Homo sapiens: one gene and its partners. The protein of the gene in region 2 interacts with the protein of the main gene of each other region in a biochemical or structural test. Each region holds a gene or a part of one and is shown on either strand. Other genes may lie near its edges. The genes, in order: NFIA, LHX3, NFIC and RLIM.

Region 1 (7,205 bases), on a different chromosome or scaffold from region 2:
AAAAAAAAAAAGTAGTGTGCCCTTATAATTCATGTTGCTGAACATATCGCTATAAGCTAGGTACTATTTCATAACATTCAAGAGGAAAAAAAGAACGTTTTACATATGTACTCAGTGAGAAAGTTATAGGCCACCAATAAAAACAAACCTGAAAACCTGTTTCAAAAGTGGTATTACTTTGAATCAGCATCTTAAACATTGATCTGTTTGAAAGTGAGCCAAGTTTAAGAACCACTGAATGCTGATATTTCTGGAAACTACTTTTTTTAAAAGTTCACCTACAAATTTCTGCTGGGTTATCATTATATGGACAGTACCTGATTTGATTATATGCCCATATTTGATTAAAATAAGATGTCTAGGTTTTTCTTGGTAAAGTTTTTTTTTAAATTGCCTACAAGTTAAATGGAGTTTCATTTAGAGTATAGTGATAGAAATCACTGTGCTTACTGATTTTTTTTAATGAGCAATAAACTACCGAAGTTCTTCTTCCTAAAACTGGCTCTAAAACATTATAAATATCCCAGCAAGTTAAATAAATTGTAAATAAATTTTTAAAAGCAGAACCCATAAAATATGAGCCCTCATTCACTATTTATTGTACATTTTCTTTACAAACTGTTACACTAAATAAGCATTTCTCTTAGTGGTGTTTCCAGAAGAAGGCCTAGTGAATGCATCAATCAACGCTGCTGAATATGTAAGCCGAAAAAAAAAGAAAAAAAAAAACTCTCTTAATGTCATAATACCTCATGAACCAACAGAGGCCAACTTTGTTAAATACCTGACTGTGCCCTAGGCCTGCATGGATATACAGGTGCCCTCATATATGCACCATTCCCAAATATAAATTTATCTTTTCAGAGCTCAATTGAGAAGACACTAATGTATCTGTTAGGGTCCTTTCCCTTTATTGCAGCTCGCTGATATTATCTACAAGTTCTGTGTGTTGCAAACTTCTGCCAGCTAGAACTTCAGCCTTCGAATCTCAGCATTTTCACTATAGTCCGTAATTCATTCAAATTATCTTACACTTTGCATCTTATCCATATGCAATTGTGAACCTTGCCAGAAGTGGTTGGAAAAGTTTCATTCCATACTTCCACAAGTTACTAAAATAGGAACTTTGGAAGTTTGTTAGGAAAAAAAAAAAAAACTTTTACAGTAACTAAAAGTAACTGCTATCCATTATTAATGCTAGGCCTAAATCCCAAACAGACCATTTCAACATAAAAGATGCGTTTAAGAGTCTTCTGAGATCAAATACCCGGTATTATTACTGTTAGATATTGCAATAAGAAGGGATGTCATGTGGGAAATAAATCCAGAATCTAGAGAGGAGAGCGAAAACTACTGATACTTTTTAGCCTTCCAGAAACTATTCCGGTTAAACCGTTATCTCCTACTAAATGAAGGCAAGAAGTGGTAGGTTTTTTAAGGGAGAGGTGAATAAACATTTTATGTGAAGCATATAACTTCATGTAGGTGATTAATGGTCAGATCCTAATGTACCAAAGCAGTATGAAATCTCACGCTTAAAAAAAAAATAGCGCAAAACCACTTTGACTTCAAGCCTTTTAGTCAAGGAAAACAAATAACATATTCAAAGGGGACCGGATTTGAAGTCTCGAAGTAGCAATATTTTGCCTGGGGGTGGGTAGACAAGGGAGGAATGGACAGGGGGGCACGGAAAGGAGAGGCGGTGGGGCGCAAGAGCCCCATGCTCTGAGTTGAGTCGGAGGGGAAAAGTTGCCCCCGTCCTGCGCGCGGAGCGGCCGGAGTCGCGCGGTGGCGGTGGTGGTGGTGGCGGCGGCGGCGGCGGGGGGAGCCGTGTCCGGCCCGGGCCGCCGCTCCGGCTCCCGGCTAGGAGCCCAACTCTGCCCGGCGCTACCCGGCCCGCGGCCCGCGGCCTCCGGCGTTCGGCGCCCTGCACAACGTGGGCTCGTCTCGGCCCCGAAACTTTCACTCCGGGAGAGCCAACGGGCCACCGGCGCGCGGCGAGGACGCAGGCTCCACCCGGCCGGCGCGGGGGAACGCGCGTCCACGTAGCCCCGCTCAGCCGAGGGCTAGCCGCAGCCTGCCCGCGTCCGAGGGGCGCTGTCCGGGCCGGGGCCGGGACGGGAGCCCGCGTCCTTTCCGCGGCCGGACCCCGAAGGCTGACAAACAATAAACAAAAGTAAGAGTTCGGGAAGACGGCGGGGGGCTGCGGCAGCGCAGGCTGCGGGGAGCGGGCCGTTGGGCGCAGGCACCCGAGGTCTCCCCGCACCCGAGGACTGCAGCCGGCCCGAGCGTGCGGGGTGAGCGGTGGGCTCCGTCGGCGGCCCCCTCCCCGGGCGCTGCGGCACTACGGAATCCCTGCTCCCGGCAGCAGAAACGCTGAGCCAGATTTCTGCGTGTCATGGACTGCAACCCCGCCGAAACACGTGCGGGGTGTCCGAAAACACTGCTGTTCCGCAGTCCGTCGCCCCGATATTAATTAACGCATTAATAAGAGGGCGCCATTAGCCATGTGCCCACACAAATGGCCGTGCAAGAGGAATGCACCCGCATGGAAACAAAGTTACTTTCTTTAAGCGGGATCCCCCCCCCCACCCGCGGGCACACGCGCGCACACACACAGAAACACGCGCAGACACAGACACACACCGAGACGCACGCCCTGGGCCCGGCCGGAGCGACGGCCCCGGTGCCCCCCACCCAGCCCCAGCCCTGCCCCCGGCGCCCCGGCCCCCAAGCCCTCCGCATCCACGCCGCGGCTTACCTGGGTGAGACAGAGCGGAGAATACATAACTGCCGGGCGCTGGGGTATGCGTGTGCGTCTGGGTGTGCGGTTTGGAGGTGTGCGTGAGTGTGGGTGAGAGAGGAGAAAGAGGGAGAGAGGAAGAGAGAGAGAGAGAGAGAGAGAGAAGGGGGGAGAAAAAAAAATCAAGCCTGCTTCTTGCGTTCACATTTCCAAGTCGGCTCAACTGCAGCCAGCCAGCCAGCGCTATTGCCGCTCCATGAGCTGAACTTTAACCCCGCCTAGAGTTTCCCTACACTCCACTATACATGCCTACTGTACGCGGGTGTTAAAGGCATAGCGCACCCTTTCCCGCTCCCGCGCCGGCCCGGCCGGGTGCCCGCGAGCTGCCCGCGCGCCCGCCTCCGCCTCCGCTCTGCACCGCACCGCACAGCCGCCGCCCGCTCGCGCCGCCGCCGCGGGGGGGAGGGGGTGTGGGGGAGGGGGCGGCTGCGGCGCCGCGCGGCCAGCCGGGTCCCGAGCCTCCGCGGCCGCTCGCGCTCGCAGGCTGGCTCGCTCGCTCCCCGGCTCTCTCCGTGGCTCGCTCCTTGCTCGCTCGCTTGCTCGCTCTCCCGCTCGCTCCCCGGCCCCCCCGCCCCCTCCCCCGATCAGCGCATTACTGGGTAACGCAGTGAGGAGCAGTTACAGTCTGTACTCCCGGGCAGCTATAGGCTGCCACAGGATGTGCTTAAGCAAACAAAACTACTTTTCCTCGTCCCCATCCCCCCACCCCCGCTGCAGACCTCCGCGGACCTCGGTGGAGGACTTGGGCAACTTTGCCAGGTTGCCCCGCACCCCCCGGGCCACCGCGTGGGCACGTAGAGAACCGAGGAGGAGGCCGGGCGGCACATTTGCATGTATGCAAATTTCTTTGAAAAATCAGACCTCCTAGGTAACTTTTTTTCCCCCACTGAAATGCGGTAAGGCTCAAAGCATTGTAATCTCTCCAGCGAAGCTTTCTGTGGGAATAGATTCGTCGGCAGAGGTAATTATGCACACAATCCTGCAAACTTTGTGCAGCTTCGGTCCTGTGGCATTCAGAAGCGGGGGTGGTGAGGAATCAGTGCCCACAGAAGATTCACCGGATTTGGGGGGCGGGGGTCTGGAGAAAAGAAGGCGGAGATTAATGAGCGTTATCCCTCCCAGGACTGTGAAACTAGTGGGTTTGAACACAGACGCCATAGAAAAAGTTCTATCACGTTCAGAAACAACAGTGGTTTAGCTGTGACATCTTTTACTTTTTAGGAGGAAAAAAATATGTGAAAGGGATGTCCCCTTAGGGAAGGGAGATATTCTGATCCACAAACGCGTGCCCAGAACTGGACATAGGCTATCATTACCGTCCCAGTTTCTGGGACACCTCTGGAAGGGTGCCTTTTAAGAATCCCTTTTTTCCCTCCCCCAGGTAATAGTTCTTAAAATGGAAAAGAGCTTCCTGCAATTATTTTAGGTTTGCTAAAGTATTGTTTTGGCAGAAAAGAGGGGGGTGGTTTTTAGGGTTTGGCAAGTTGCCAGTAAGCCTGCTTTTCCAGTTTTTTTTTTTTAACCTCATATTTTCTCTCTAGGCTCTCCTCTCTCGGAGGGGGGAAAGCCTACCTGCCTCTTCTAAGCCCCCATCCCTTATTTTACTTCTCTTCCTCATGATGGTTTGCAAAATGCTGCATTTGACAACCCTTCTCAAAATTCCAAAAGGAAAGAGGTAGGTATCATGTTGAAAGACACTGGCACACAGGGGAATCTGCCCTTCGGTGGAGGTGACATAACCAGAGAGTCTCTAAAGAGGGGACATTCCTGTAGGAAAGTGAGGGTAAGTGATGTGTTAACAAGTGAGGGTGAGTGATGTGTTAAGGCCACTCTCATTCAGACTTCTTTTCAAAGCAAGGGGCAGGAAATACTGTACTGGAGAAAGAGCAAAAGAGAACCTCTGAAATAATTCTGCATCTGTCTAAAGTTATTTTATGCTTGTACTTTAGTTACTTTATTGCCAAAATAATTCCCGAATGCTCAAGAACCATTCTCTCTCCCACCCTCCCTCCTGAACATCCTTGGAAATCTCTCAAGATTATTTACTAAGGAGTGAGGAGAAATAATGATTTCAGCCTTTAATGAGAGAGTCCATTTTCCCAAACTTAACCCACTGCTTTTCCTTGGTTCCTCTCAGATTTTAGTAGGGGAGGAATGTCCTAAAAGCCAAGCTGTGTTACAGAGACAACATCCCTGGCCACGAGAACCTTTGCTGGGATCTATAACTTCAATGCGCTCCAAGTTTCCTCGATAGAAGTTTCTGGCTGACGGTCCCAACATGTAACTGAGGCACAGTGAAAAGTTATTGTTCAGAGTGTGTACTCGGGAAGCTCTCTTCCAGAGCAGATTAAAATCTTTCTTTTGGTGTATTAAAAGATACACTTCACATCTGCCTATTTTCAAAACGGCAAAGATTCTTACTTTTGAGTCTCAAGGAAAAAAAAGATTTTTTTTAAAAAGGACTGGCATGTCGCCCTGTTTTTTTTTTTTAATGGGGGAAGTAATTTAATGCTGATATTTCTACTTTAAAAACTTCTTTTGTTGCAGCAGTGGATGTGCCCCGCGATTTCCAGCTTTCTGCGGTTAGCAATATTATCTTAAGTAACTTTTGGCGCCCTTCGTAAGACTTTTGGATATGGGACGATTGTTTGCGCCCTCTAGGCAAGGGCTGGATCCAAGTTCAGCACCAAAGCCCTTCACATCCGCTCCTGCTTTCTCTCCTATCTCCGCCAGCTCCCGCTCCCTCCCCCGCGGAGGGAGGGGGGGAGGCGGGGGAACACTACAAAGCACAGTTCCAACTACAGCCTTTGGAAACAAGACTGAGAAAAATACAGTAGAAGAGTTACAGTTACAGAAAGGCTTCTGGTAACTTTCTCTCCAACAGGCATAAATTTAAACACACGCACAAAGAAACAGATGTTCCTCAAAGGGCAGACTGGGGGTAAAAAACATTTCCAACCCTCTCCCCTCTTCCCAAGTTGCAAAAGTAAATCCTTGTCCAGAGTTCACAAAGATACTAAGGCACTTGAGAGAGAGCAGGGATGGAGGAGGAGGGAAGAAAGAAAGGATAGTAGAGAGAGCAGTGGAGGAAACGCAGGTGAAGTATGGAAACTAGTTCACTGCAATCATATAAATGACCCATTGTTAGGAAGGATAAACCCCTTATTGGAAATAACCTCTCCAATCATTTATTTTCCAAGTGGTAGGAGGCTGCCTTGAAATGGGATTGTCTCTGCGCAAAGGAGGCTCCTGTCATGCTCTCTGCTATCCATATTCTTCCTGGCACAGAGCCCAGCCTTGCATTTACTGTGTTTTATTTGCAGAAACGTTACCTTGCCAGCTTTAGTGAAATCCTCTTAGATATATAAATTACGTCAATAAGGTTTCACTTATATGTACATCTCAAATAGCTCTCATTTTGGAGGTTACTTAATAGGGAGATCTTATTAATATGATTTAGATTTTAATACCCAAAGCAGTGAAGATAGGACTGGGATTCATAAGCGACAACACCATAACTCTGTAGTTCTTACCAAAACTAACTTTATTAACTGGCATTTTTCAACATTTTTTCTTCTCTGGTTTTTGACCTGCTGGTCACTTCTGTGCAGATTTTTCTTATGTGCATATAATCCTAAATTGAATCATGTTGCTGAAGTGAGTGTCCAAGTGAATTCTTACATCAAATTTCCAAGCCAGATTTGACTGGAAGGCCTAAAGCCTTGGGAAATAGCTCGATGGGAATTTAATCCAAAGAAGGGAAAGAGCCCATATTATTTTCCATTCACTTCCCAACAGAATTGGGTGTCTACGCTGCTCAGAGAGGAGGAGATGGAGATATTTTAGTCAGAGGCTGCCAGTTACTGTCTCCAAGACAAGCTACTGCAGTTGGTTTCCACTGGATTTGTATCAAGCACTTGTCCAAGAGGCCAGACTCCAACTAACAGTTAGCAAGTCAGCGATCTTCCATACACTCTCCACGGGGGTTGTTGTGGTAACAAGGAGAAACGTGAACTTGGCCAGTCTTAACGTCCTATTTCCTACTGACCATATACTTAAAAAGCAGAATTCAAGAATAGCCAAGAAAAAACACTCCCCTAATTTCTTTCAAGTGTGTAAGACAGCTGCTAGTCCACATGTGAAACATTCTCTCCTTTAAAACTGTTGTTTAGAGTTCAAGAAGAGAGGTTTACCTATTAATTTCAAAGTACTTGAAATGCCAAAGCTTCTAAGATAATCAGAGTAAGAAGTTTTGTAATGCTGAATACGCAATATATTACTTCCCAAAGCTCACTACAGTCCCACAATTCAGGCAAGATTTAAGCCACACGTTTCTTAAAGTTGAACTTCACATTCCACAAGTTACCAGCTTCCCTGAGCATAAAAATAATAGCTAATGCAA
Region 2 (6,898 bases):
GCGGGCGCGCAGTCCTCCTTCCTCCCTCCCTCTCTCCGCCCCCCAGCCCCCGCGGCCAACCCCTCCCAGGAACCGTCGAAAAATAAATAAATAAGTAGGGAACCGCGAGCCCCCACAGCCTGGATGTAACCCCCTTCCCGCCGGCCGGTCCCTCTCACTCCCCACTGGCTCCGGGGCCTCCTTCCCCATCCTGCGGCTCCAGCTGGCCCGGGAGTCGAGGAGAACTGCCCAGGTTCCCTAAGAACCAAAGTGCTGGGAGCTAGAGTGGTGCCACCAGGAAGCTGGGGGGCCTGGAGAAGAGAGGCTTTTTCCTACAGACGGGCCCTGAGCGGGGATAAACCGAGCGGGTGTCTGTGGGCGCAGACGCTGAAACCTGACTTCGGGGAGACCGACGGTCGGAGTTCAGCTCGACCTTGGCCCCTGCATCTGACTCTGTTCCGCTGGAACGTGGAAAGAGTCCGGCTGGGGCGGCCTTCTTGGGGACCCTCCTGTCCCGTGGTCACTGCCCCGCCACTGCTCCCTGCGCCTCCTCCAGCCCAGGGAGCTGGCTCCGGGCTGCAGAGGTCTCCTAAGCCCACCCTGGACCCCCGAGAGCTCCCTGGCCGGAGCAGCGCAGTGCCACAACCTCACTCACTCCCTGACAACCCAGGCCAGGGGCCCTGCAACAAATACAGGCTGAGGCGCCCAGGCGCGGACGTTCCGGGGTCCTCGCGCCCACTCCCGCCCAGATCCTCTAGCTCCTGCCAGCCTCCGCGGCCAGGCCCGGAAAGGCCTGAGGATCTCCTGGTCTCCCCGGTGCAGCCACTCGGCCCGGGCACCCACCTCGGCGCAGGTCCGCCCTCCGCGCCAGCAGTGCTAGCAGCAGGTCGCCTCCCGCCGACTCCCGGGCCGGGCCCAGCTCCCCGCGCGCCTCCATGGGTCCCGCCGCCCGGCGTCGCCACTCTCCAGTCCCGAACTTTCCCGGGCCCAGCGACGCCACCCCGCAATAGCCCCGAACCGGCGTCCAAGCGACTCCGGGTGCTGCTGGGCGCTGCGCCCGCGGGCCGCCCTGGGGCCCGGAGCCTCTGGCCGAGCGGAGGGCGGAGCGGCCGGGGGGCGGGGCCGCGGGGCGGGGCGGGGCCGGGGGTCGCGGAGACCAGCCCGGGCCACTGCGGACTCTGAGCGCCTTTGCGCCGGGACCTGCGGTGCCCAGAGGCCGCCCCGCGTGCCCGGCCCGAGGGCGGGCACCGGTAAGGGAGGGCCCAGGTCAGGGCTTCCCGCCAGCGTTCGTCCCGGCCCCGCAGCTTCCTGCGCCGGAGCGGCCCAGAGGCAGAGGCCTGAGCTGGAGCACACGCCAGGAGGGCTAAGGTTCCCGGGAGAGGGGTCGAGAAGGCAGCAGGGTCCTCCCGCCGCTGAGGTTTGGCCTCGGGAGCAGCAGATGGTCGGCGGGAGCTCAACCCGAAACGCAGAAGGGGTGAGTGTGGCGCCGAGGGCTGCGTACCGGAACCGCAAGGTGCCGGACCGATCCCAGATGCTAACAGGCTTCTGGGCTCCACCCCTGGAACTGCGGCCCCGGACGGCTCAGGGAGGAAGGGCAATCCTTGAGAGAGAACAGGCTCTGTGTCCTGGACACGCAGCCAAGACCTCGGGTCGTGAGGGGCCGAGCTGGGGAAGCCCCAGGGCACACCTTCCATTTCCAGCCCCCAGCACTCCGGCTCCATTGGAACACGGTCCCTTACCTGATATTTCAGCCTCTTGCCCCAGTCCACACAGGTGAGCTCTCCAGAACCCACCTGTCCTTGCAGGCAGAGGGACGCACCCACCCCTGCCCAGAGGGCCCTGGGCCAGCACCAGCCCTGGGCAGCCACCCGGGGAAGAACACAGCAGTGGGTGGCCCTCGGCAGCACAGGACTTGGCAAAGGCAGGGGTGCCCTGGCAGTGCGCAGAAACACACAGGAAGGGTTGGGGGACCAGGGGCTGATGCCATCCTGCAGGTCCCTCTCCCTGTGGGTCTCACAGCAATACTCTGTCCACTCTGCCTATGGCTTCTGGACTGTGAGCTTTAAGGGCCCAGGCCCAGAAGGATGGGCACAAGAAACCACAGTCCCTCCCTCCTAGCTCCCAGCAGGTCCGATGTGTCCGTTTTGAGCAGTGGCCCATGCAGCCAGCTTTCTGCCCCTTCACTTTGCACAGCACTTGTTACCCAAGAAGGGCCAGGGCAAGGACACGCGGGTGCAAAGCCGAGTGTGTGCGGGCTGTGCTGGGTGCAGGTGGCTGAGTGTCAGCTGCTGCCGAAGCGATCAGGGGTCGTGTGTGGCAGGACTGGGGAAGGGGCGGCGGCAGGTTAAGGAGGCGGCCCACCCTGCTGGCATCTGGCCAGCCCTCCAACAATGCCTCCATTATTTCCCAGCGTCCGTGGTGATGGAATGGCCCTTGGGGAGGGTGGTTCAGGCGGGAGACACAGGCTTGGGTCCCCTGCTGTGGGGTCCAGAGACCTGGGCCGGGCTGTGTGCAAGAGCTGACGGGCACTGGTCACCGGGGGAACCTAGCACCCCTTGGTCGGCCCCATCGCCCCCCAGCTGTGCCTGCGATGCCCCCTTTTTTTCTAGGGGCCTCCACTCCAACCGCTGTCCCGCACTCTTGCAGGCCAGCGTCAGGCCCTCCCCGCCACCCTGGGATCTGGAAACTCACTCTCTGCAGTTTCCATCTCTGTGTCCCGCCTGCAGAGCGGCGGGACTTTCTTTGCCTGGCCGCTGGCCCTGCACGCACCCCCTTCCTCGCGCCTCTGCCGCCCTTGCCGTTTCTGTCCTCAGTGTCCTGCTGGGGCTTACCCCGAGTCCCGCCCAAGGTGCAGACGGCGGCGGCCCCGGGCCTCGCTCGGTCGCGCTCGAGCCCCGTTTCCAGCAGCATCGCGGCCACCAGGCCGAGTGGCGCGAGACGCGCTCCTCCTAGGTCAGCGTCCCCTGGAGGGTTCGGGGCTCCCAAGTCCCGCCGCGTCGTGCGGGGCAGGGAGCCCGGGAGCCACTGGGCCTGGCGCTGTCCGCGGTGCTGAAGGAGGCGCCCGCTGCCCGCCCCGCCCGCGCGCCCGCCCACCTCCCGGGGCCCCTCTCGTCGCCCCGGTCCCCACCCCCGCCTCTGCCCCGTGTCGGGCGCGCCTCCCTCCCTGGCTGGGTTGGGCCGCACTCAAGGCAGCCCCCGCCCTCACCCCTCTGAGACCCAGGGTGGCCGTGCCCGCTCCTCCCTAAGCTCCAGGCCCTGCTGAGGCGCTGGGATTCGCCGAGTTTCGCAGCAAGCGGGTCGTCCAGCCGCAGGGCAGGAGGACACTGACCCTACCCTTCTGGCGTGCAGCCTCTGGAAGGCAGTGCCCAGGCCGTGCCCCGGGGCAGCCCCATGCGTGATCAACTCCAGCCCAGGGCTCACTGGGGCACTCTCCTGCAGGTGTTTTGCTGGTCAGGGAACTTTCCACTCTTAACCTCCTTGAACTCAACCCCCAACTTCTGGGAGGAGCTCAGCCCGCACCCCTCCGGGCTGCCAGGAGGAGAGGCACCTGCAGTCCCCTGTAACAAAAGCACTGCTGAGGACTCAAGACCTTGGGCATAGGCAGGGCCTGAAGGAATCGCCCAGTACACACCCAGGCTGGTGTCTGCTCGGTGCCTGACGAGTGACTGAGTTACTGCCAGCCTCTGCACAGCCTGGCCAGGGAGGTGCCAACCGGCTTCCTCCACAGCCACAGGCAAGACTGTTGACCACTGCCCTGCCCCCACTGGCACAGCAAAAGTAGGGGAGGGGCAGAAGACAACACGGGGTCAAGGGCACCCCACAGAACACCACAAACAGCCTTAGCAGGACACTCACACCCAGGAAGCAGAGGGATGGCCACTCAAGCAAGCTGGGGGTCCTCTGAGGTGCCCTCAGGCTGGGCTGCCGCGCGTGCTCTTTGAAGTGTGTAGCTGACATGCATCTCAGCTGCCCTTTAACCTGTGTAAAATCAAGGGTCTTGTCCTGTGAGTCTCGTCCAGATCAGCTCCAGGGAGATGATCTATCACTGCTTTCCATCTTCTACTTTCCATCCGACCCTTGGGCTGTGTCCCAAAAGCCAATGATTCGATAGGAGAAACTCTAGGATTTCAGATGTCCAGTACGTGAACAAAAGAGGGGTCCATTCTGCACCCACCGCCTCTACCACAACTCCCACTGGTAGAGCTGGTTCACATTTCAAAAGAATCACCATTTTTTCAAATGTCAGATTTCTTTATTAAAATGTGCACATTATAGTTTACTTAAATACAAAATGTTCACTTTCCTTGCAGGTAAGAAATTTCACTGACATTTCCATGTCAATTAGCTTCTTTTTAATAAAAATCCTTCCACTGAAAATAAATAAGCATTTAAATTACTGAACTATTATATTCATTAGTCTCAATACCTCTTAAAATACTTAAAACTTTAGAAAATAGACTCTAAACATTGCCTAAAGGTGGCATCCAGCTCTGAGCAGGCCACACAAGGTGTGTCTGAGTATGGCCATATGACTCCTGGGGCCACCTCCACGACGGCCCAGCCCCACCGACGCTCTGCTGAAAATCCTGCCCCTCAGCAGGACGCAAGCTTGTTCCCCAAATAGTGGTGACCTCAAACTGCAATATGATGAAACCTGCAGCCAACACTGCCCTCCACAAGGGTTTCTGGAAAGGCTGAAGCTGGAGACGGTAAACCACAACACCGTCCCAGGTCACTCCAGGTCACCCCAGCTAAAGACATTCAACACCAGCCAAAAGGCTAAAGTTTAGTTTGAAGGGTTCAAAGGCAAATACACTGAAACCCACGTGTAAACCTGCCTGGTTTTCAAACTGGAAGAGAAACACTTTGGTGTCTTCAATAACCCAGGCCTGCACTGGATGAAGCAATGAAGGCAAGGTCACGGCTGCTAAAGCACAGAGGGGTTAAAAAGTGTGAAACCAGAAGCAACTCTCGAGTGAGACACGAAGCAGCAGGCTGACGCACCAGACACCGCTCCCACCAGACACCTCTCCCGCCAGCTGCAGGGCCCTGGGCAGCGTTCTCAGCCCAGCCATTCTGTGACAGTTGTTGAAAGAATCAGCTGTTGCCTTTTTTTCTCAAGCGACAACAATCACATCAATATTACATGGTCTTATGAATACATCCATGTCATCAACTTGTTAGTAAACACATGATTATACAACATAAAGTAGGCAAAGCGGAAAAAATATCTACAACCGTCAAAGTCTCTCTCTCTCTCATACACACACACACACACACACACACACACACACACACACGGGCACACAAATACATCTGAGCCTATTTTAGCCAAATCAAATTTTGCCTGTGAGACACACCAATAGCCACAAAGAATCTCAATATAAATGTTCCCAGAAATAGTGTATTTGTTTGTTTACATCTTCAGAGGCAACGGACCACTAAATGTTTTGGGTTTAAAAACAATGTTTAAAATTATCAAATGGTAAAAGACATCATGACAAAAGCTTGGGAGATCAGTGCCTGTGTGGAGACCCTTCCCAAAACAGCTTCAGGCAAAGGAAGCCTGGCCCCCTCCGTGGGCCGAGTGAGATGCTTGTGTGTGCAGCAGGTGCCTCTGTGGTGCTGGGTGAAGAGCAGACGACAGGGGGGGCTTTAGAAGTCTCCCTGGGGCCTACGCTCCCAAGGGCAGACTGCTCTCCTCCCCATCCCCCAACAGAGGGGCCTGTGCTCTAAGCACTGCCCGCTGAGCCCAGAGCTGCCCTCCAGGCACCCGCCGTCCCAACGGCCCCCATTTACTTGTCTCTCTCTTGTCACCAGATAGACAGACAAAGGCGCTGCCTCTGAGGGTTAAATGAGCCCCCATCCTTCCAACCCCCAGGTCCACAGCCCAAGGCCTCTGGGGGTTATTTTCTGAAACGCAGCACAGCCACAGAATTCCTTGGCTCCTCCCCTGTTGAAATCCCCACGTCTGGTGTCGAACACCCGGAGGAACAAGGAGAGCCCTCAGGAACCTGCCCTAGGGAAGCAGCTACAAACACAGGATAGTCCCTGGAGCACTTGCTTGGAGGGGCTGCAGAGGCCGACTGCGCTTCCGGCTCTGTCTGTCCCCGCCCGGCTAAAGGAAAACACTTGGCAGCCTGGAGCAGGGGGCGTGGGGGGAGCGGGGGGAGGGGGAGCGAGGGGAGTGGGGGGGAGCCAGGAGCCGCGGGGGGGATGGGCGAGGTTCTCCAAATACAAAAACAAGGCCCTGCAGGATGGGGCGGAGTGGAGGAAACGAGATGAAAGTGTGTGGGGAAGACTATCTGGCCTGGACTCTGCACCCTCTTTTCACATCTAGAAGAGTAAAAATACAGAAGTCTTTTTGCTGTAAGACCTGCAAAAGGAGCATGAACAGACTTGAGTACGCCAGGAATGCAAATATCCCCACAAAATTACCCCGTGTTCTTCCCTTGTTAGAAGAGCGTTTGTAAAACCAGGACTTTGAAGCCAAAAGGTGCCATCCGATGTGAAACCAGGCCCGCATGTTTATAAAATCCCTGATCATAAATATTAAAGCTGCAGGTGGCACGGGGCAGGGCTGCCTCCAAGGGAGCTTCCGCCGTGGCTGGCAGCACCCGGGCACTCACACGGCCGGGTGGTGGTGCTTGACCTTCCACCGCCTGGACCTCACCCGGAAGAAGAAGTACATCACCATGAGGAACAGGGATGAAGCCACGTACAGCACGACACAGAGACTCATGTCCAGGCTGGAGAAGTCAACCCCGAGGAAGGGTGCGGCCCCGCCCACCTCCTTGTGGGCCCCGGGCCCATCCAGACTCTGGAGTTTCCCGTCCAAGCTGTGATGCAAGCTCTCTGGAAGGGCAGGCCTGGGGCCCAGTGCACCAGGTGGACGGACGCTCTGGGTGTCTCGGTCTCC
Region 3 (7,025 bases), on a different chromosome or scaffold from region 2:
GCTGCTGTCTCTCAAGGTCCTGGGGCAGGGAAGGTGGAATTGTCTGCTGCCTGGGGACCTGCAGGGGGACCCAGGTCTGGCCCCTAAGCGGCTCTCCCAACCGAGTCCCCTTTGGCATTCCTTTGGGATCTGATTGTCCAGCCCAGGGTGGGGCCCTGGGGTCAGAACCTGGGTTCCAGACCTGGGCATGAAGGACTCCAGATCCTCCTCTCCCCAGTCAAATAGGGCTGGGTCTTCCTACTCCTCCATGCCCCATCTCCACCCGGGTCATTGTCAGGTGCCCCCACGGAATGGGGACAATTTGCATATATTTGGGAGGCCTCCCTATTCTTTCCCACAGCATGGGCAGACCCCAGAATGAGACTGGGGTGGGGGGGGGGGCCTGGCATAGGTGTGGTGTCCATAGCAGGGGTGGGTGATGGGGGCTTCCAGAGGGGGGTGGAACAAGATTTGAGAAGATGTCAGTTTCATACATGTTAAAAAAACAAAAACAAAAAACCAACACTCCCTCCTCCACCCAGGGATGACGGCACCCCCTTTTGTGAACCCAAACTGCAGAGATGGGCACGGAATCCTGCTTCCTGGTGTTTTTGTCTTACTCTGTCTGCAGCAAGGCGCCTGGGAATTTTGCCCTACAGGGACCCTGTAGCTTTTCCAAGAAACAGGGAGGCGGGGAGAACTAAACCATCCACAACATGCTGCCTGGTATGGGCTTTTGCCTGCTGTACTCAGCCAAGGTGCCAAGTGAGCCAAGGAGGCAAGCTCGGGGTGAGAAGGGTGGCGTCCAGCCCAGGACTCTGGGCCCCCGGGTGTGGGCTGTGCAGGGACGCGATGGTCCCAATAGTGATGGGGCCACCCACTCCCTTTGCCTCCGGTTGCTCCTAGTTCCTTGGCAAGACAGATTTGCTCAGGAGTGGGGCAGAAAAAAAAAAAAAGCTAGAAATCAGCTACATGAATGCTGTGCACAGCCAGCCCGGGCTCTCTGGCCAATGCATATTACTTAAGGGCAATGTCGTGGCCAGCTGTGGTGGTCTGGGCTCTCCCTCTGTATCGCCTGGGGAGGCTGCTGAGGTGACTTTTTGGAAGAAAACACGGGATGAGTGTATGATGGTGGCTGTGGAGACCACCCAAAATCCCGGGGTTGGGGGCAATAGTGAATGAATGGGACCATCTGCGTGGGTCCCTACACGAGATGCTTGGAGGGGCTGGAGGTGGTGAGGGCTGCAGGAATGGCCTAAGGTTGGAGAATCCCAGCCCTGGGTCCTCCCTGCCTGGCTGCCCCACTAACCATCTGGCTATTGTCTTAGCTTTGGTCAAGTAAAAAGCAAAGGAAGCTGGAGTTAAAAACAAAAAGAAAAGAAAAAAAAAAAGAACAAAAGAAAATAAAATCAAGGACAAGACAACAGCATGCTCAGCCACCGGACCACAGCCTGTGACTCGGTGCCACCTGGCTGTCCCTGTGCCCTGCCGGACCCTCGGCTGGGCCTCCAATGGCTGAGCCAGGCCCATGGGTACAGACAGACAGACAGATATTGCATATATCAGGTTTTGTTTTTGTTTCATACAGGATACCCTTCATATTCACAGCTGGAAGACAGAGACAGGGGATGGGGGACAAAGGAGAAGGTGGGAGAGAATGCCACCTGGGGTGGTCTCTGGATAGGGGAAAAGAGGTCCTTTGGCAAGAAGGGTGGGGATGCACGGGGCAGGGGAGAGGGGGTGCCTCTGAGGTGGGTGTGGAACAGCATTTGACCCTGAGCCAGGGGTATGCCAGCCTGCATGAAAAGTGGGGAGCGGGGAGTCTGGCTGCGGGTGGAGTGGCCACCCCATGGTTGGAGGACAGCCTGCAGTGGGTCGGTGAATGGTGTCTGGGGGCCGGCCCGTGGCCTAGGGACCAATCAGAGAGGAGAGCCCTTTCCCAGGGCCAAGATGGGCCCCGGAGGTCTGTCCTCTGGGCAAGGGATTCAGAAATGACCCCTCTGGGTACCCAAGAGCAGGGTTGGGGGTGGTAGAGGCTGAGCACCAGGGGGCACCCCTGAATACAGCAGGAGGGGAGACAGGACCAAGGACAGCCAGGGGCTGGGTAGACCTGGGGGCAATTGTTTTCAGTGGCTTGATTTTTAGCGTGGTTTTTCTTCCTTTTTTTTTTTTTTTTTTTTTTTTAGATTCTCACTTTCTTATTTTTTATTTTATTTTTTTTACAAATAGAAATACATCCCTTTTCAATTTTTATTTTTTATTTCATGTCACTGTTTTGTCTTTTTTTTTTTAAACTACACGAGCAGAACATGCAGCTATGTGTGTGCGCTGATATTGTTTAAAGGTAATACTTATTCTCGGAAGGCAAGGCACATCTTGTGGTAGAAAATTTCGTGCAAATTAGGAAACATGGAATTTTTTTAAAGGTTTTTCTTGTATCTTTTTTTTTTTTTTTTTTTTTTTAAAGAGGAAGTGGGGGGTGGAGGGGGCGAGGAACAGGGAGATAGAGCCAGGGATAGTCTGCCATGCATGTGTGTCAGCGCCGCCAGCTGACCTCGGGAGCCAGGTCGCAGGAGTCCTTGACTAAGCACCATGCAAAGTTAGGTAAAGAGTTGGTTCTCGTCGCGCCCTGACCCCTCTGGAGCCCGGCTGGCCTCCCTCCCCCACTCCACGACCCCCACCCTGGCTGAGAAGCTTCCGGACACCCCAATGGCACAACCCGACCACCCCCTCCCCCGCCCGCCCTCCCGGAGAGCGGCCCACGCTTTGATCCCCAAGGGCCACCGGGGGAGCGGGCCCCGAGGACAGACGGACGGAGGGACCAAGGGCTCGAGGCCAGAGGATGGCGAACCTCTCTTGGGGGTGATGGGGGAGGGTCCTGGGTCTTTCTCTTTAGGAGCGAGCGGGTTCGCCAAGCTCCTGAGGCTAGTTTGGGAGGAGAGTCTGGTTTTCGGGGGCAGGGGGGTGAGGCTAGGAGCAGGTGAGACCCGGAGACCTGCCCTGGCTTTGGCCTGGGTCGGGGGAGGGGGCAGTGGTGGGGGGAGTTTTTCCCTAGGCATGGAGGTCAGTTGGGGCTGGGCTGGGTGGGCCGGGGAGGGGTCCTTGTGTTTGAGCTCGGTGGCCCTAAAACACCTAACACCCCCTCCCAGGCCTCCCCTAAAGATGGCGATCCTGGGGTGGGGGTGGAGGTGTGGATAGGGCCAGGGAGCCGGGGTGGGGGGGCACCTGGCGTCCCCAGCTTAGTGTTTTTGGAGCGGCTCAACGGAAAAACGCTTAGCAGATGGGAGGCCCCCTACACGGCTGCGGGGGGCCCCAAGGTGCGACGCCGAACCCCCCGAAAACCCTCCCCGTTCCGAGCGGGGACCGCTGGCGTCGGCCTCCTCTCTCCTCTGGGGGCCCAGCCGTGATGCACGTCCCGCAGCTGGGCCCCGCGTCGGGGTAGGCGATGAAAGTGCAAACGGCGGTCCCCCTTCGCTGGGAGGCACCAGGGAGGGGGGTCGCTCCAGAATGTAAGGCACTGGCAGCGGAGGCGTGGGGGGCGCACCGGCTTCCCCAGAGCCCACCCCCGCGCCCCGGCAGGGCAGGACGCTTGCGAAGTGACGCCCAGCTCTGCCCCTCGGGCCACGCAGGGGCCCCATCTCTCTAGCTCTGGGGGGGCACGGCGATGAGGGTTGACTGGAGGGGCTGGTGGAGAGGCTGGAGGGGAGGGGGAGGAGGCCCGCGGCCATTCCGTGTCCCAGCTGGACAAAGGGGGGGGCGGGTGGTGGTAATCAGGCACTTAAACCACTCGCTCTCACCTCCCACCGCCAGGGGCTGACGGGGGCGCTCCAGACGGGCACCCCCAACTCGGGGAGCTCTGGGTGTCCGGGCTCCCCCATCCCCTTCCTCGGAAAGTGCATTTCTTACAGTGTGTGCAATGTGGGTCCCTCCCTTTGGGGGTGTGAGCCGGGCGAGGTGGGGGGGCCTCCTATGCCGGGGGTGGGGGGTGGAGGGGCCGGGGCCAATTGCATAGAGACTTCTCCTCCCAAACGGGCGGGCGCGAGGGCTGAAAGAGTCCCCAGCGAGACAGCGAGTCGGCCGGCGCTTTGGGAGGGGCTTGTGGGGAGGCCCCGCGGCAGGCAGGGCCCCCTCGAGGGGCAGCAGGTGCCTGGGCCTCACTTCCTCCCCTGGCCAGGGCTCGCAAGCGCCACGCACCCCCGCGACACCACTCGCCTGCCCCACCCTGCCCGCCTCTGCGGTCTCCGCTGCCCGGCCGGGGTCCGCTGTGTCTCCCTTTCCCCCCAGTGGCTGCGTCCTCGGTGGGGGCTGAGGGGCCGGTCCGTGTCCGGCAGAGGCGCGGGGGCCCGGGGAGAGGTGGCCTTGCTGGGTGTCGCGCCTGTCGGCCCTGGGCACAGGCTCCAGGCTGTGCTCACCTGGTCTCCGGACAGAGCCAGGGCCTCCGGGGCGCGGGCGGGCGGCCGGCGTCTGTCCTTCCCGAGCAGCAGGCGGAGAGGAGATGAATAACTTAGGAAGACGCCCTGTCCCGGGTCTCCCGTGGGGGTGGCGGGGCCTGGCCCTCCAGTCCTGCGGCCTTGGCGTCCCGAGAGTTGGAAACGTTGCGTCTTTACCTTTTGTCTTCTTGCTTGGGTGGGTTTTTATTTCTTCTTCTTCTTCTTCTGCCTTTGTTTTTTCTTTTCCTCCTGAGTGTGTGCGTCTATGTGTTTTGTCTTTTTGGCCGGGCTGGGAGTCGGCAGGGGTGTTCTTGTTCACTCTAATTTTCCACCGAAAACGTGGGCCGGGGGCCGGCTGTGCTGCCCCCTGGGATTCCTGGGACGATGGAGAAGGGGCGAGGGAAGAAGACCTTTGCTATCCCAGATACCAGGACTGAGTGGCCCAGTGGCGACAGAAAGAGGGAGAGAGAAAAAGGGAGAGAAGTCGAGGGGTCAGACTCTGCTGCAGACATGGTTTACCTCTTCCCACGCTCACCCCCCACCTCCTGCAACCCTGTGACCTCAGTTTCCCCATCCCAGGCTCTAACAACCTGCTGGGTGACCCATGGCAAGTGACTTTGTCTCTGAGGGAGGCTTCCAGACACAGTACAGGATGCCCAGTGAAACTGGAGTTCTGGTTAACACAGAATTCTTTTAGTATAAGTCTAGCCCACGCAACATTGGGGATATACTTACACACCACACACAAAAGATCCATTTATCTGGAACTGTATTTTATATTTTATTTATTATTTTATTTTTTGAGATGGAGTTTCGCTCTTGTTGCCCAGGCTGGAGTGCAATGGCGTGATATTGGCTCACTACAACCTCTGCCTCCTGGGTTCAAGCAATTCTCCTACCTCAGCCTCCCGAGTAGCTGGGATTACAGGCGTCCACCGCCACACCTGGATAATTTTTGTATTTTTAGTAGAGATGGGGTTTCACCATGTTGGCCAGGCTGGTCTCAAACGCCTGACCTCAAGTGATCCACCTTCCTCGGCCTCCCAAAGTGCTGGAATTACAGGTGTGAGCCAGCACTCCCAGTCTGGAACTCAATCTTACTTTATTATATTATATTATTTATTTATTTATTGAGACAGAGTCTCGCTCTGTTGCCAGGCTGGAGTGCAGTGGCATGATCTCGGCTCATTGCAACCTCTGCCTCCCAGGTTCAAGTGATTCTCCTGCCTCAGCCTCCCGAGTAGCTGGGATTACAGGCGCATGCCACCACACTCAGCTAATTTTTATATTTTTAGTAGAGACAGGGTTTCACCATGTTGGCCAGGATGGTCTCACTCTCTTGACCTCGTGATCCGCCCGCCTCGGCCTCCCAAAGTGCTGGGATTACAGGCGTGAGCCACTCTGCCTGGCCTTTATTTTATATTTTAAAAATTATTTTCTTCTCTATTTATTATTTATTTATGAGACAGAGTCTTGCTCTGTTGCCCAGGCTGGAATGCAGTGGTGTGATCTTGGCTCTCTACAACCTCCGCTTCCTGGGTTCAAGTGATCCTTGTGCCTTAGCCTCCCAAGTAGCTGGGATTACAGGCCCGCCCCACCACACCCAGCTAATTTTTGTATTCTTAGTAGAGACCGGGTTTCGCCATGTTGGCCGGGCTGGTCTTGAATTCCTGGCCTCAAGTGATCCGCCCACCTTGGCCTCCCAAAGTGCTGGGATTACAGGCGTGAGCCACTGTGGCCAGCCAATTTATTATTTTATTTTGAGACAGGGTCTTGCTCCGTTGCCCAGGCTGGAGTGCAGTGGTGCCATCATAGCTCACTGCAGCCTCCATCTCCTGGGCTCAAGTGATCCTCCCACCTCAGCCTCCCGAGTAGCTGGGACCACAGGTATGTTCCACCACATCTGACTAGTTTTTTTTTTTTTTTTGTAGAGGTGGGGTTTCGCCATGTAGACCAGGCTGGCCTTGAACTCCTTCCTCCCAAAGTGCTAGGATTACAGACATGAGCCACCACATCAGCTGCCTTGTTCACTTTATAAAGAGGTTTTTTGTTGATTTTTTGAGACAGCGTCACGCTCTTGTCACCAGGCTGGAGTGCAGTGGCACGATCTTGGCTCACTGCAACCTCTGCCTCCCGGGTTCAAGTGATTTTCTTGCCTCAGCCTCCCGAGTAGCTAGGATTACACGCATGCGCCATCACACCCAGCTAATTTTTGTATTTTTGGTAGAAACGGGGTTTCTCCATGTTGGCCAGGCTGGTCTCAAACTCCTGACCTCAGCTTATTCGTTTGCTTTGGCCTCCCAAAGTGCTGGGATTATAGGCATGAGCCACTGCACATGGCCTTGAGAATGTTTTTAAAAAGTAAACAAGAGGCTGGGCTCGGTGGCTCATGCCTGTAATCCCAGTACTTTGGGAGACCAAGGTGGGTGGATCACCTGAGGTCAGGGGTTCGAGACCAGCCTGGCCAACATGGTGAAACCCTGTCTCTACTAAAAATACAAAAATTAGCCAGGCGTGGTGGCACGTGCCTGTAATCCCAGCTACTCGGGAGGCTGAGGCAGCAGAATCGTCTGAATCCAGGGGGCGGAGGTTGTAGTCAGCCAAGATCGTGCCATT
Region 4 (7,025 bases), on a different chromosome or scaffold from region 2:
GTTTGTTACTATGTTGGCTCACAAAAAGCAGTTTTCTCAGTTCTAAGCATGGTACTTTACAATTTTTAATGCATTCATACAACAGTGCATTGGAAAAGTACTGAGCCTCTACAAAATAGCTTTACATTTTTAAACAAATGAATGTGATTTTTTTTCACTTACACAAGCATAGGCTTTTTAATATTTCCACAAGATAAATATCTCAATTAAACTATAAGCTCACTCTACAGTGTGCCACAGTGATGGGCTTAGGAGACAGTTATACACTTAGAAGATCCTAACCTTAGTGTTATTTACACTGACATGTCCAGTATCACCAAGTCTGAAAGGTGAACAAACAATACTCAGAATGTGGCTGAATTTGTGTTAACTAATAACTGGGAATGATATAGCTTTAATCACTTATGAAACACATACTGTAACTTAGTCTAAACTGGTAATTTCCTTTGCTCCTCTCTTATGGTGTGGGAAAATTTAAAGATCAACATGAAAAAGGAGCCATTGCTAAGGCAGATCTTTTAAGATAACAAAGGAAAAATTGACAAGTGTATATGATAAATTATCAGTAACAGTGATGCTACCAATTTAACTGGTACGGAAATCAGATTTTTAGGTCCTATAACGTGGCTTTTAAAATATTTCCTTTTATTCTGGAACAAAAACTGGAGAAAGGACAATGATTCCTTCAGAAAGCAATGACTCAATTCAGGTTGTTACTTTACATTTAAGTACCACTCAAAAAGTGGACATAAAAGCAAGTGATTCCTGTTTGCCCATCACTATATCAGCTACATAGCTGAGAGTTCAGATCTTAATTACACAACACTTTCTCTGTTACCAGAAGCTAAGACTGCTCTGCGACAAATAGGACAGGTAGAATTCTCAGATAACCAGCGATCGATGCAGTGGACATGGTACTCATGGGAACAAGGTAGTTTACGAAGTTTGTTGCCTTCTGTATATTCTGTAATGCAAACACTACAGGTTTTTAATGCATCATTTTCACCAAAACTTCTCATTGCCAAGTTGTCAATCTGTTCTTTGGTGAGTCCTCTAGGTTGGTCATCATCATCCTCATTTAAGAGGAAAAACTGAGCCAGGCTAAGGAAGGGCAAAGAGCCACTTTCATCAAATGTGACTGGGGCCCTATGTCGACCCTCTCGCCTGGCACCTGATGAGCCTGATGATGAGCTTCCTTCATTACTGCCTTCAAATAAATCTGAGCTAGTTTCTGAACTTTCACCACCGGAACTGGAACTAGGACTGGAACTGGAACTTGAACTGGAACTGGAACTCGAACTGGAACTGGAACTCGAACTGGAACCAGAACTACTACCACCACCAGAACCTCCTCTTCCACTCCGTGACTCTGCCCTTTCCATATTTCGATTTGAGACTGAGCCAGTAGGCTCTGAGTCGCTATCACTGTACATAAAATAGCTTAACTCACCAAAACCTGTCATTATCTGCCTTAACATGGTCTGAATTGCAACAGATGTAGTCTCACTTAAACCAGTATTTAAGATTCTACGAATGGGAATTCTGATGGTACTGACATAGGTTCTCACACCTGCCCGCTCAGAACGTGAAAATGTACGCCTAAAACCTCCTCGTTCACTTTCATAGGTGACAGTGTTGTTTGGTGTCTGAGACCTAGACCGAGTTCTGCTGGCTATGCTATCTCTCTGCCGATATTCTCCAGGACGAACTCTTCTTACTTGAAGATCAAGGACTATGGTTGGAGGTCTCTGTCCTGATCCTGTAGATTCACCACTGGCAGCTGTGTCTGAAGAACCTGCTCCTTGAGAAGCATTTCTTGTTCCAGAAGCTGCAAAAAGACCTCTACTTAGCAACTCAGGCCCAGATATTTGCTGCCTCAATGTCACATGGTGCCGGGTTCTAGAACTTCCCTCCGTCTCATTTACCAAAGGATGTTCAAAAGTCTGAGATGAGATACTATGATGAGATCTTCGTGGAATTTCACTCATTGGATGCAGAGGTGACCTACTTCTTTCAGCTCTTGCTCTGGTTCTCCGATGGTCTGGGCTCCTGCTTCTTGCCCTCCTCTGACCTCTGGTAGGTGGGACCTCTGTTAACGCTTCAGTTGAATTTCGTTCTGATCTAGATGGCCTTGCAGATGTTGATTCAGATCGTGGGTTTTCCACTTGCCTTTGGCTGTTGTTTTCCACATTTTCTCCACTAGAACGTCTTGCAGATGGCTCATTTTCATTCTCTGAATTTTGGCTCCCATTATTACGGTTAACATTTATCTCTAAACTGAATCTGAAATCACCACTGTTTGGATTAGTCCGACTCACTGCTCTCCAAGATTGGTTTCCTCTTTGCCCACTTCTTGTTGTATTTCCAGTTTGTCTGACAGAGTTAAGCCAGTCTATTATAGAGTCACCATTAGACACATCATCTGAAGAGTCTCCTCCTGTTCAAAACAAAGGAGGGGGAGAGGGAGAAAAAGGAACTACTAAAATGAGGACAATCATATAAGTGCTCTGAAACTCTGCATTAAATAACTTAAAAATTCGGAACACATTTCATAATTACAGATTTTTACAAACTATACTGCATAAATTTATAAGGTAAGAAAATTCTAATTCCATTTGAAAAGAGCAAGCTACACTAGAGAAATTTAGAGAATTATTTGATTTTTAAAGGGAATCTGGAGGAAGTCTATTTTCAGTATTTTATCATATACAGAGCCAAGCATACCACTGTGGGATGGTCAGAAGACGTTTTTTCAGTCCTCTGCCAAAATACTAATGTAATCAAACTAGGTAAGGAAACAGTGTTTAACGAACAGTCACATTTAGTTCAAGCTACATTTCTGTCAAATTTTTATTAGTCTACATACTGTGCCTTTGATAACATTTGAGGTTGTTTTAAAATACAGGACTATTTATTGTAGCCATAAGAAAAATACAAACAAGATTTATAGGTTTAAAAGCATTTGAATATTTCTTAATGTTACCAAGGTTTTCAATGGACATGAAGTTAAAGATCAGATCAAATAAGTAGTCTGAACCTTGCATAGCACATATAATGGCATGTTCAAGAACCAAATTATTATCGTAGCCTCTCAGGTTGCACAATCAAAATCCCTACTTGACACTGGGAGGGAAACACCAGACCTGAGGTTAGAGCAGGATTTCTCAACAGTGGTACTACTGACATTTTAAGCCAGTTAATTCTGTGTCATGGGGGCTGTGTTGTGCATTATGGCATGTCAGGATGTTTGGCAGCATTCCTGCCCTCTACACAAATGTCTCCAGACGTTGCTAATGTCCCACATGGGGCAAAATTATATCTCATTAGGAACCACTGGGTTTAGACATTTCTTTTTGCTGGTGAAGAAGTCACATGTTTATAAAGAAGGAATTAAGTAGGAATAAATTTCAATGGAGGTGAAAAACAAACAAACAAACAAAATCACATTTAAATGGGCCATTTCTCACTGTGTTCCAATTAACATAAACATCTCAAAGGTGAGGTAGAAAAAAAATGCTGACATTCTAAGTATCAAGAAAATGTCAGTTTTCTTTTTATGAGCAGTTACTTAGCACCAAATTAATTTGTGCCAAATCTGGATAATCTTTGGCTGACATTTACTATTACAAAGTTCCTATCATCCCATCGTCTATCCACCTCCCCACCAAAACCAAAACATACCTCTATTTTCATCTGAGTTTTGCGGTGGTGGGCCTTCTTTAATTTGCTGTAGTCGTCTCAGCAACTCTTCCTCAGTACTTTCACCTGAAATTTAACACCACAGGGCAAAGATGACATTAGGGGTATGACAATCAAATACTTTATCAGTGACTCACAGTAATCTGACACAAGATGATTAGAAAAAAAATCATATTTTTAAAAGAGAAAACTTTTTCAAACCAAAAAGAAAAACCAAGGAGTAGGTAGGTCCTGGGAAAAATTCACTTCTTTGGAAACATATTAAAAGCAATTTACAAAGTTCTTTTGCATATAACATCTAACTTTGGCTCACGCCTGTACTCCCAGCACTTTGGGAGGCCGAGGCGGGTGGATCACCGGAGGTCAGGAGTTCGAGACCAGCCTGGCCAACATGATGAAACCCCATCTCTACTAAAAATACAAAAATTAGCCAGACATGGTGGCAGGTGCCTGTAATCCCAGCTGCTTAGGAGACTGAGGCAGGAGAATCGCTTGAGCCCAGGAGGCAGAGGTTGCAGTGAGCAGAGACTGCACCACTGCACTCCAGCCTGGGCGAAAGTGCAAGACTCTGCTTAAAAAAAAAAAAAAAAAAAAAAAGGCAAAGGCAATTCTAAGCTGGGCGCACAGTGGTACCACATCTGTAGTGCCAGCTCGTTGGGAGACTCAGGCGGAAGAATCCCTTGAGTCCAGCCTGGGCAACATGAGACCCTGTCTCAAAAATAAATAAGTAAGTAATTTTTAAGAATTGCAGCTTTGAGAGGAGGATATTGTTATCTGCATTTTAAAATTAAGAAACAGACTGAGCGACAGACTGGCTTGCCAGGAGCCACACCAAACAGCAGGGCCAGAACTCCACCTAAAGCATTCTGATTCAAGCCTGGTATTGTTGGCTAAAAACACACTCCCTCTCTTAAAAGTCATGCTAAAACCTTACCTTTTAAAATCTAAGCAATTACTCAAAGGTAAGTAGAATTAAACAGAAATGAAGAGGAAGACAGATACTGACTTTTAACTAGGATCAAATGGGACTTAGTGGGGTAAAAGATAATTAAGCACAAACTTCTAATTGCTATGTTACCCAAGGCTAGCTCTGGAGGATTACAACTGGGACATATTCAGAAAATCAGAGATAACAGAATAAGTCTTTCCTAAAAACTAAGTTCCCATTAGCTATTCCACACTCGGATTCTTATCTAGTAAGTTAGATAAAGCTAACTAAGAAAAAAAAGATTTAGCTCCATTCTTTTCAATTCAGTTCGCTAAAAATTCATAATTCATAAGTTAAAAATCTCTCTGATATAGTGTAATTCCAAACATCAGTAAATATAATCAGGTAATAAATACAGCAATAAATGTCATTCCATATCCCCTATGTTAAATAATATTTCATAAGGGCTAAAGAAATGGATTTTTAAAACAGGTTCAAGCATTTTTTTTTAAACCAGCAACTTACACTTATAAATCCTTAAATATATGTAAGCATACCTGGGGTGCCTAGCAAATTGTTATCTCTCATAAGCCTATAATCTTCTTCACTCAGGTTATTTACAAATTGATAGAAAGCTTCTTCTCGATCCAATCGGTCCATCTGACTTCTGCGCTGTGCTGCAGACTGATCACCACTTCCTTTGTCATTGGAATCTGAGTTTTCCATATTGATGAACAAGTGGAAAATACCTGAAAAGAGAAAAGAGACTAATCTTGAAAATAAAGGTCACTATGTATTCTATACAAGTTTTAATTATGTGAAAATCCAGAATGTAGGTCTAGAGATGGATTTTCAGACCTCAAATGAAATTTCCTAACAAAAACTCCTGAAAAGCACTGTTATATTAAGAGTAGGTCAAGGGTTGGCAAACTACAGCCCTTGAACCAGACAGGGTTGGCGAACTAAAGCCCTTGGGCCAAATCCAGCCATACTGTGGTATTTTTTGTTTTTTGAGATGGAGTCTCGCTCTCTCAACCAGGCTAGAGTGTAGTGGTGCGATCTCAGCTCACTGCAACCTCCACCTCCTGGGTTCAAGTGATTCTCTGCCTCAGCCTCCCGAAGTAGCTGGGACGACAGGCACCTGCCACCACGCCCAGCTAATTTTTGTATTTTTAGTAGAGACAGGGTTTCACCATGTTGGCCCAATCTGGTCTCAACCTCCTGAGCTCAAGTGACCTGCCCTCCTCAGCCTCCCAAAGTGCTGGGATTACAGGCATGAGCCACCGCACCCAGCCTCGTGCTGCATATTTTTATTCTCCTTGCAACCTAAGAATGGTTTTTAGAGACTATCTTGTGACATATGAAAATGCAATGAAATTCACATTTTAGTGTTCATAAAGTTTTATTGGAACGCAGCCATACACATTCATTTACATGTTATCTATGGCTGCTTCTGTGCTATAATGGCAGAGTTGAGCAGTTGTGACAGACTGTATGTGGCACTCCCATTGCTTTGGACTGCTGCTCTGTGCACTCTTAAGTTGCAGTGATGTAGCTATAATGACAGCATTTCAAGTGCCTTCACACTGGACATTAAAAAAAACTGAGTATACACTCATCATCTCAAACAAAGAGAAAAGTGGACTCTGAATGTCACGCTTAAAGGTGCAGCAGAGGATGGGTTTTTCAAAAATCAGATTAGATGGCAAAGAATGCATGATTATGCAAAAAATACTATATACTAAATACAATATATACTGACACTATTAAACACTAGTGACAATATTCCCAATTCACAGGAAAACTACAGTTCAAAAAGTTAGAAAATTTAAAGTGAAATCTCATCACAAAATATTTCTTCACAAAAATAAAAATGAGGCTTCAATCAAAGTAAATTTCCCAGGGGCTCATTTATTGGCTAAACGAGGAAAGCTGTTTATTGATGGTGAGTTAGTGAAATTATGTTTGAGTGCAGAAGCTGAAGAAATGTGTCCAGAGAAAATAAACATAATATTGGACTTTTGGTAAGTATAGTGGTCCAAAAAGCTGGGAATATTGAAAAGCAATGTCACTAATCAACTGAAAAATAAGGTAAATGATGGAGTGGTTTTCTCTTTGGCTCTTGATTTGTTGACAAATGTAACTGATACTACTTAAGTTATTGTTTATTCAAAGAGCCAAGTGTTGATTATTCAAGGAGTTTGAACTGCAGAAGTAGCCCCTATGTGTAGTCTACATGAAATAATCATAGGTGAGAATATTTTCAAAGTTGAGAAAACTAATTCAGCAAAACCTGAAGCAGAATCTCATAATAAGATATGTTACTACTGGAATGGTAAAAATATATATGGAATGGAAAAAGACCTAGTTGGACAAATTTACAAAGTTTATGAAAATG

What was found.
Region 1: the proteins of LHX3 (region 2) and NFIA form a complex in vitro, tested with the Homo sapiens proteins (one study listed by BioGRID).
Region 3: the proteins of LHX3 (region 2) and NFIC form a complex in vitro, tested with the Homo sapiens proteins (one study listed by BioGRID).
Region 4: the proteins of LHX3 (region 2) and RLIM form a complex in vitro, tested with the Homo sapiens proteins (2 studies listed by BioGRID).

The regions. Positions count from the first base shown.
Region 1 is NC_000001.11:61,078,375-61,085,579, reverse strand, and holds the start of NFIA (nuclear factor 1 A-type), read right to left. Parts: upstream 3,020-7,205; 5' UTR 2,820-3,019; coding exon of another isoform or gene 2,789-2,819; coding exon 2,762-2,788; intron 1-2,761.
Region 2 is NC_000009.12:136,202,124-136,209,021, forward strand, and holds the start of LHX3 (LIM/homeobox protein Lhx3), read right to left. Parts: upstream 3,006-6,898; 5' UTR 2,890-3,005; coding exon 2,811-2,889; intron 1,067-2,810; exon of another isoform or gene 917-1,066; coding exon of another isoform or gene 823-916; intron 1-822. Other genes in the region: QSOX2 (sulfhydryl oxidase 2 precursor), read right to left, coding at 6,605-6,898. UniProt on the Homo sapiens protein: Transcription factor.
Region 3 is NC_000019.10:3,460,569-3,467,593, reverse strand, and holds part of NFIC (nuclear factor 1 C-type), read right to left. Parts: intron 4,843-7,025; coding exon 4,825-4,842; 3' UTR 1-4,824.
Region 4 is NC_000023.11:74,590,625-74,597,649, forward strand, and holds part of RLIM (E3 ubiquitin-protein ligase RLIM), read right to left. Parts: intron 5,377-7,025; 5' UTR 5,354-5,376; coding exon 5,185-5,353; intron 3,766-5,184; coding exon 3,682-3,765; intron 2,438-3,681; coding exon 816-2,437; 3' UTR 1-815. UniProt on the Homo sapiens protein: E3 ubiquitin-protein ligase.